2 linked regions of the Homo sapiens genome follow. The protein of the gene in region 2 purifies or fractionates together with the protein of the main gene of each other region. This does not show direct contact. Each region holds a gene or a part of one and is shown on either strand. Other genes may lie near its edges.

Region 1 (3,748 bases), on a different chromosome or scaffold from region 2:
ATAGGCTTGAGCCACCGTGCCCGGCCGTGTTCAATATATATTAACTGATTATTTTTTCTTTTTTTTTTTTGGAAACAGGTTCATCAGGTTCATGCTCTGTTGCCCAGGTTGGACTACGGTGGCCCAATCATACTTCACTACAACCAGGCTCAAACAATCCTCCCACCTTAGCCTCCAGAGTAGCTGGGACTAAAGGTTCATGGCACCATGCCTGGCTAATTTTTTTTTTTTTTTTTTTTTTTTTTTAGATGGAGTCTTACCGTGTCTCCCAGGCTGGAGAGCAGTGGCATGATATCGATGCCCAGCTAATTGTGCATATGTCTAGAGATGGTGTGTCGCTGTGTTGCCCAGGCTGGTTTCAAACTCCTGGCCTCAAGTACTCTTCCTGCTTCAGCCTCCCAAAATGTTGGGATTATAGGCATGAACCCCTGCACCTGGCCTTCTTTTTTAGTTTTTAGGCCTAGGCTAGTCCTGAACTCCTGGCCTCAAGCCATCCTCCCACCTAGACCTACCAAAATGCTGGGTTTACAATTGTGAGCCACTATACCCGTCCTATTTTTGTTTTCTTTCCTTTCTTTGTTTTTGTTTTGTTTTATTTTTGAGACAGAGTCTTGCTCTGTCATCCAGGCTGGAGTGCAGTGGCGCAATCTCGGCTCGCTGCAACGTCTGCCTCCCAGGCTCAGGTAATTCTCATGCCTCAGCCTCCCAAGTAGCTGGGATTACAGGCATCCATCTCCATGCCCAAGTAATTTTTTTGTATTTTTAGCAGAGACTGGGTTTTGCCATGTTGGCCAGGCTGGTCTTGAACTCCTGGCCTCAAGTGATCTGTCCACTTTGGCCTCCCAAAGTGCTGGGATTACAGGAGTGAGCCACCACACCATGCCCTTTTTTTTTTTTTTTTTTAAAGACTTGTCAAGTGCAGTAGTGAGAAAGGGGGAAAAAGTAGAACAAGTATAGCTATTAGGATTCAAGAGTGAAAGGGCAGGAATACTGAACCCAGTGATTGGGGAGGCCGTTTGGCAGTAGTGTTCACTCATTCAGCAGATGTTTATTGAGCTCCTGCTAGGTGCCAAGCACTCTTCCGTGCTGGGAATATAAAAAGTGAAGGAACAAAATCCCTGTTCTAGGCCGGGGGCGATGGCTGAGACTTGTGATCCCAAGCACTTTGGGAGGCCAAGGAGGGTGGATTGCTTGAGTGCAGGAGTTCAAGACCAGCCTGGGCAACATGGCGAAACTCTGCTTCTACCAAAAAATGATTTCAAATAAATAAATCACTGTCCTCGTGGAACTTATAAATATGTAGTGTGTGATGATGATAAATGCTATGGAGAAAAAGCAACACAGATGGGGATCGAGAGGAAGTTAAAATTTGAAATATGGTCGTCGGCCGGGCGCGGTGGCTCATGCCTGTAATCCCAGCACTTTGGGAGGCCAAGGCGGGCGAATCACCTGAGGTCGGGAGTTCGAGATCAGCCTGACCAACATGGAGAAACCCCGTCTCTACTAAAAATACAAAATTAGCCAGGCGTGGTGGCACATGCCTGTAATCCCAGCTACTAGGGAGGCTGAGGCAGGAGAATCGCTTGAACTTGGGAGGCAGAGGTTGCTGTGAGCTGAGATCACGCCATTGCACTCCAGCCTGGGCAATAAGAGGGAAACTCCGTCTCAAAAAAAAAAGAAACATAGTCGTCAGGGAAGACCTTACTGCAGAGACATGTGAGTGGAGACCTGAAGGAAATGAAGAGGGAAGGAGTTGTGCTGATATCTAGGAGGAGGAATATTCCAGGCAGACGGAAGAGAGGCACAAAGTCTTTGAGGAAGGGGCATGTTGGGCATGTTCACAGGACAGCGAGGAGGCCAGAGTGGGTGGAGCAAAGAGCCCAGGGGGAGAGGCAGTCAGAGGAAGAACAGGCCAGATGCCATAAAATCTTGTAGGCCTTGATGGGGACATTGGCCCTGACCCTGAGCAAGATAGGGGGTGACAGGCAGCAGGGAAACTAGGGAGGAGGCTGTGGCTCGTCATTCATTGAGGAGACCCCTATCATGTGATACTACTGTGAATAGCTATTGGGTAGTTCCTTTTAAAAAACGTGTCATTTTCGGCTGGGCGCTGTGGCTCACACCTGTAATCCCAGCAATTTGGGAGGCCAAGGTGGGCAGATCACCTGAGGTCAGGAGTTCGAGACCAGCCTGACCAACATGGTAAAACTTCGTCTCTACTAAAAATACAAAAATTAGCTGGATGTGGTGGCACATACCTGTAATCCCAGCTACTTGGGAGATGAGGCAGGAGAATTGCTTGAACCTGGGAGGGTGGAGGTTGCGGTGAGCTGAGATTGTGCCATTACACTCCAGCCTGGGAAACAAGAGTGAAATTCCATCTAAAAAAAAAAAAAAAAAAGTATTTTCGGCTGGTTGCGGTGGCTCACGCCTGTAATCCCAGCACTTTGGGAGGCCAAGGCGGGCGGATCACGAGGTCAGGAGATCGAGACCATCCTGGCTAACATGGTGAAACCCCGTCTCTACTAAAAATACAAAAAATTAGCCGGGCGTGGTGGCAGGCGCCTGTAGTCCCAGCTACTGGGGAGGCTGAGGCAGGAGAATGGTGTGAACCCAGGAGGCGGAGCTTGCAGTGAGCCACGATCACGCCACTGCACTCCAGCCTGGGCGACAGTGCAAGACTCCATCTCAAAAAAAGAAAAAAGTATCATTTTCACCGTCCTCAGATTATTGTTTTTTTGGCATGTTTGTTTGTTTAGTGTGTGTTTTTTTTTTTTTTTTTTTTTTTTTGAGACAGAGTCTCACTCTGTCGCCCAGGCTCGAGTACAGTGTTGTGATCTCAGCTCACTGCAAGTTCCGCTTCCCGGGTTCATGCCATTCTCCTGCCTCAGCCTCCCGAGTAGCTGGGAATACAGGCGCCCGCCACCATGCCCGGCATATTTTTTTGTATTTTTAGAAGAGACGGGGTTTCACCTTGTTAGCCAGGATGGTCTCGATCTCCTGACCTCCGTGATCCGTCCGCCTTGGCCTCCCAAAGTGCTGGGATTACACGTGTGAGCCACCGCACCCAGCCTTGTTTTGTTTTTAAGACAGTCTCATTCTCGTCCAGGCTGGAGTGCAGTGGCGTGATCTCAGCTCACTGCAGCCTCTGCCTCCCAGGTTCAAGTGATTCTCCCACCTCAGCCTCCCAAGTAGGTGGGATTATAGGTATGCGCCACCATGCCTGTCTAATTTGTATGTTTTTAGTAGGGAACAGTGTTTCTCCATGTTGGCCAGTCTGGTCTCGAACTCCTGACCTCAGGTGTTCTGCCTACCTCAGCCTCCCAAGGTGCTGGGATTACAGATGTGAGCCACTGCACCTGGCCTGTTTGTTTCTGAGACAGGGTGTTGCTCTGTCCGCAGGCTGGAATGCAGTGGTAGGGATCACAGCTCACTGCATCCTCCACCTCCTGAGCTCAATTGATCCTCCCACCTTAGCCTCCCAAAATCCTGGGATTACAGGCGTGAGCTGGCCAAATTATTATTAATTATCATAATTGTTGTTAGCAGTTTATGCAGTAGCCTTCAGATCTTTTCCCATGTACATAAAAATAATAGTATACTTAGCCAATGTTTACTGTATATACTAACTCATTTAATCCTCAAAATAGTCTTGGGAGGTAAGCCCTGTTACTATCCCTGTTTCCTAGAAGAGGAAACTGAGAGCCAGAGAAGTTAAATGTCTTGCCTCAGGTCATTCTGCGTATAC
Region 2 (3,748 bases):
TACAATCATAAGCCATCCAGTTTTTAAAATAAAACTGTTGAAAAACTCACAAATCTTCAAGCGGCACATACAAGACACCCTTGAAGAGGGAACAAAATGTGGTTCTGCCACTTTGTACTGTTCTCACATTTTTGAAAACCTAATTTTGCTTAGAGCATAGGTCTGTTCCGTATTCTAAAATTCACACAGGTTGGTTTGTTTTTTCTCAAGAACCATGTGATAGAGGCACCAATGACAATACAACTTTGTTTCCAAGAACCTTGTAACAAAGCGTTGTCTCTTTTAAACATACCACTTGAGGCAAAAGGAATCCTGGACAGGAGTTTTCTGCAGAGGCGTTTAAAACCCTACCGAATCCGCTTCTGCTGCCGTGCTCTGTAAATGTCATGAACAGGGGGGACAACGGCTCCCTTTTCTTCATCTTCATCTGAATCCTCGTTGGGCCTTTTGACGGCCTTGGTGAGTACTGCATTACTTTCCACGGGGCCGTTGCCTTCTACAGCTAGCTCTGGGGCCCCACCAGTAATGATCCTCACAGCTTCCTCAACAGCTATTAAAACAAAACAACAAAACGTAAAAACATATTCCACTATGAAAGGGTATGTATGTTCAACTGTGGATACTTTATTTCATAGCCTACTATTTTAGCAAAACATGGGATAGTACTACTGATACTAAATAATTAAAGAAAAAGACAAAAGCTGCTGTTAAAACTAATAATTTTCATAAGCCAAGCCTGATAGTGCATGTTCACATGAATAGAAAAGATAAAGTTTTATGACATTTTACTTAGTGGAATTCAATGTGAATAAGCCTTTCTCTGCCAAAGAGGGTTTGGGTAACTCCTGGGTTTCACTGCACTTCAAATTGGCTGGCTGGTTTCGAAAACTTCAGTGGCAGAGAATAATAATCTCTACTGCCTATGAGACAACAACGTGGAATGACACTCTGAAATGGAGCTTCTGTTACTTACTATTTGGTATCTTGCATCTTCGGAAAATTTCCATCAGTTCATCCACTTGTACAAAAGGACCCTATTTTTGACATGAATAAATTTTAATCCCAGTAATCTGACAAGTTAAAGTAGTAGTAACTTTATACACAATTACTATGACCCACAGAGCCAGTATCTACCATGAAAATAAGTGAACAAACCTGGAAACAGATAGGAGGAGGGAGAAGTTTCATTAAAACAACAGCTGCAGGAGGGACTGGGAACACTCCACCAGGTACAGGGTGTAAACCTGGAGCTGTGAGAAAAAGAAAAGTATGAATCAAGTGGAATGGAAGAATTTCTACACAGAGCTAAAATCAAGTGACTTGCACATAAAGATCTTCCATGTCTGCTGCTTTGTTCTGGACACTGAAAATACTTCTAGGGCTTTACCAAACCAAAGTGGGTGAGACAGCAGTCTCAATGCCGTGGCCACTGGGAGGCAGAGAAGTAGACAAGTGACTTTGTGTAAGACAACCAGGGACTGAACTAAAGTCAGTTTTTGTCAAAGAGTGTTTCTGAGTTACACAAGTCATTTGTTTAGCAATCCTGTTTCAAGTCAATTATTCAACAGTGTATTTAATCAGAAGGGCCTTGTTCAAAAAGAATCTAGAGAGGCTACTAACCCATTCCTAAGTAAAGAAACCAAATCTATCAGTGAAGAAAGTTTCCACCAGCTGTTCAGGTAATCTGCACATAGCAGCATTCCTTTTTTTTTTTTGATACAGAGTGTCGCTCTTGTTGCCCAGGCTGGAGTGCAATGGCACCATCTTGGCTCACTGCAACCTCCGCCTCCCGGGTTCAAGTGATTCTCCTGCCTCAGCCTCCCAAGTAGCTGGGATTACATGTATATGCCACCAGGCCCAGAAAATTTTTGTATTTTTAATAAAGACAAAGTTTCACCATGTTAGTCAGGCTGGTCTCAAACTCCTGACCTCAGGTGATCCACCTGCCTTGGCCTCCCAAAGTGCCAGGATTATAAGTGTAAACCACTGCACCTGGCCATAGCAGCATTTCTGAAAACCAAGTATTACTGCCAAAATGGGTTCCTGGAATCTGGATCATTGAAGTTTTGTTTTTAGGACATTCTTAGTTAATCTAGTTCAAAGATTAAAGCTAAATCACTTGTCATAGTGATCCTAAGTCTAATAATTAACCCACAATTGAGAGGCCATGTCACTTTACCCCCACGCTTTGGATTTAAATCAACAAACAAACCAACGTCTCAGTACTGGATCTAAAGTCATGGCTTACGTGCTAAATGTCGTGGCTGAAATGGAATCATCTGCTGAGTGTCTGGTTTAGGGTATTCTGGTTTTCTATCCACTTCATCTTTCAGAACAGGCACTATAGAAGGAGCTACAACTGGGTCCGGAATTATAGCTGCTAGCTTAGCACGGGAGACATCCTGAAAATGCAGAACAGAAGAATCCTAAACCTGAAAAAGGGACTACTAGAGAATAATCATGCAATAACCTTGAGGATACAGTGTGAATATCTGGGTCAAAACCACAGAAAGAAAATGGAGACGGATAAGCAAGGACTCTAATGATGGTAAAGATTGTTACTCAACAAGGAAAGCTATTTGGTTCTAAGACTCAGTGTATCATAACTTTACCCCACACAAGTTACAAGTCATTAAACTTAGTGTTGCCAGGCAGGACATTTGTAGGACAGATACAAGCTTTTTTGGGTAGTCAGACTGGGAACCAAGTAGAGGCCAGGATAATTTGGAGGAAAATTCAAGATTTTAGATCTTCTGACACCTCCCTTCCATTAGAATTGAACACCAGTTTCATTAAATGAAGAAGCTGGATTAAGTGACTTCCTGTTTTGTGAAGGCATCACACCGGTTAAGATTTTGCTAATGCAATGAAAAATTATTTCCAATGTACTATTTATTACAGGGGACAAGGAATATTTACTGAGCAGACACTATTCATCAGGCAATTTTAGCCATTCTGTTTTTAATGAGGGAAATAGTAACATCTCCATTATATAGAAGGGACTGAAGCTCACAAAGGTTTTGATATTTCCCAGGTCACACAGCTAATAAGAAGTAGAGAGAGGAGGATTGGGAGGGCAGGCCTCTCTGACCTCAAATCCATCCACAGTCTTCTTTTCAGTACACTAGCATTGCCCTGCCAGGGCTGAGACAAGATATGCCAAAGGAAGCAATACAGTCACCTATGAACAGAGGCCCTATCTCAGAGGAGCTCCTCTGCTCCAGACAACCCAGTGTTACTCTGTCTGTCTAGAAACAAAAGAACCCCTTTTTGCCGCCATCAAGGGATATAAAAGCATTCCACTTTCTCAAAATTTGTTGAAATGGAGTTGGTGACATCTGGTATTAATTATATAAGCAAATCTAAATGGTAGACACATTGGGTATCGCTTTTTAAAAATCTTTCTCACAGATACATACATACCATACCACCCACCGTTAAACACAGAAGCACATTAATCCTTCCCCAAAAAACAAAAGAGTAGAAATAGAAATACAAGATGGAAAACATCATATTCAGGAAGTAGTTCTACTCCTGAATACTTACTCTCTTTTTTTTTTTTTTTGAGACAGAGTCTCACTCTGTCACCCAGGCTGGAGTACAGTGGTGCTATCTTGGCTCACTACAACCTCCTGGGTTCAAGCAATTCTCCTGCCTCAGCCTCCTGAGTAGCTGGGATTACAGATGCCCGCCACCAAGCCCGGCCAATTTTTGTATTTTAGTAGAGACGGGGTTTCACCATGTTGGC

Evidence for each region. The genes of interacting proteins can lie anywhere in the genome.
Region 1: the proteins of CSTF3 (region 2) and SYMPK purify together in Homo sapiens (affinity purification with mass spectrometry; 2 studies listed by BioGRID and IntAct, with this or other methods). This does not show direct contact.

The regions. Positions count from the first base shown.
Region 1 is NC_000019.10:45,856,452-45,860,199, reverse strand, and holds part of SYMPK (symplekin), read left to right. Parts: intron 1-3,748. UniProt on the Homo sapiens protein: Scaffold protein that functions as a component of a multimolecular complex involved in histone mRNA 3'-end processing. Specific component of the tight junction (TJ) plaque, but might not be an exclusively junctional component. May have a house-keeping rule.
Region 2 is NC_000011.10:33,084,740-33,088,487, forward strand, and holds part of CSTF3 (cleavage stimulation factor subunit 3), read right to left. Parts: intron 2,403-3,748; coding exon 2,249-2,402; intron 1,251-2,248; coding exon 1,156-1,250; intron 1,035-1,155; coding exon 974-1,034; intron 551-973; coding exon 348-550; 3' UTR 1-347. UniProt on the Homo sapiens protein: One of the multiple factors required for polyadenylation and 3'-end cleavage of mammalian pre-mRNAs.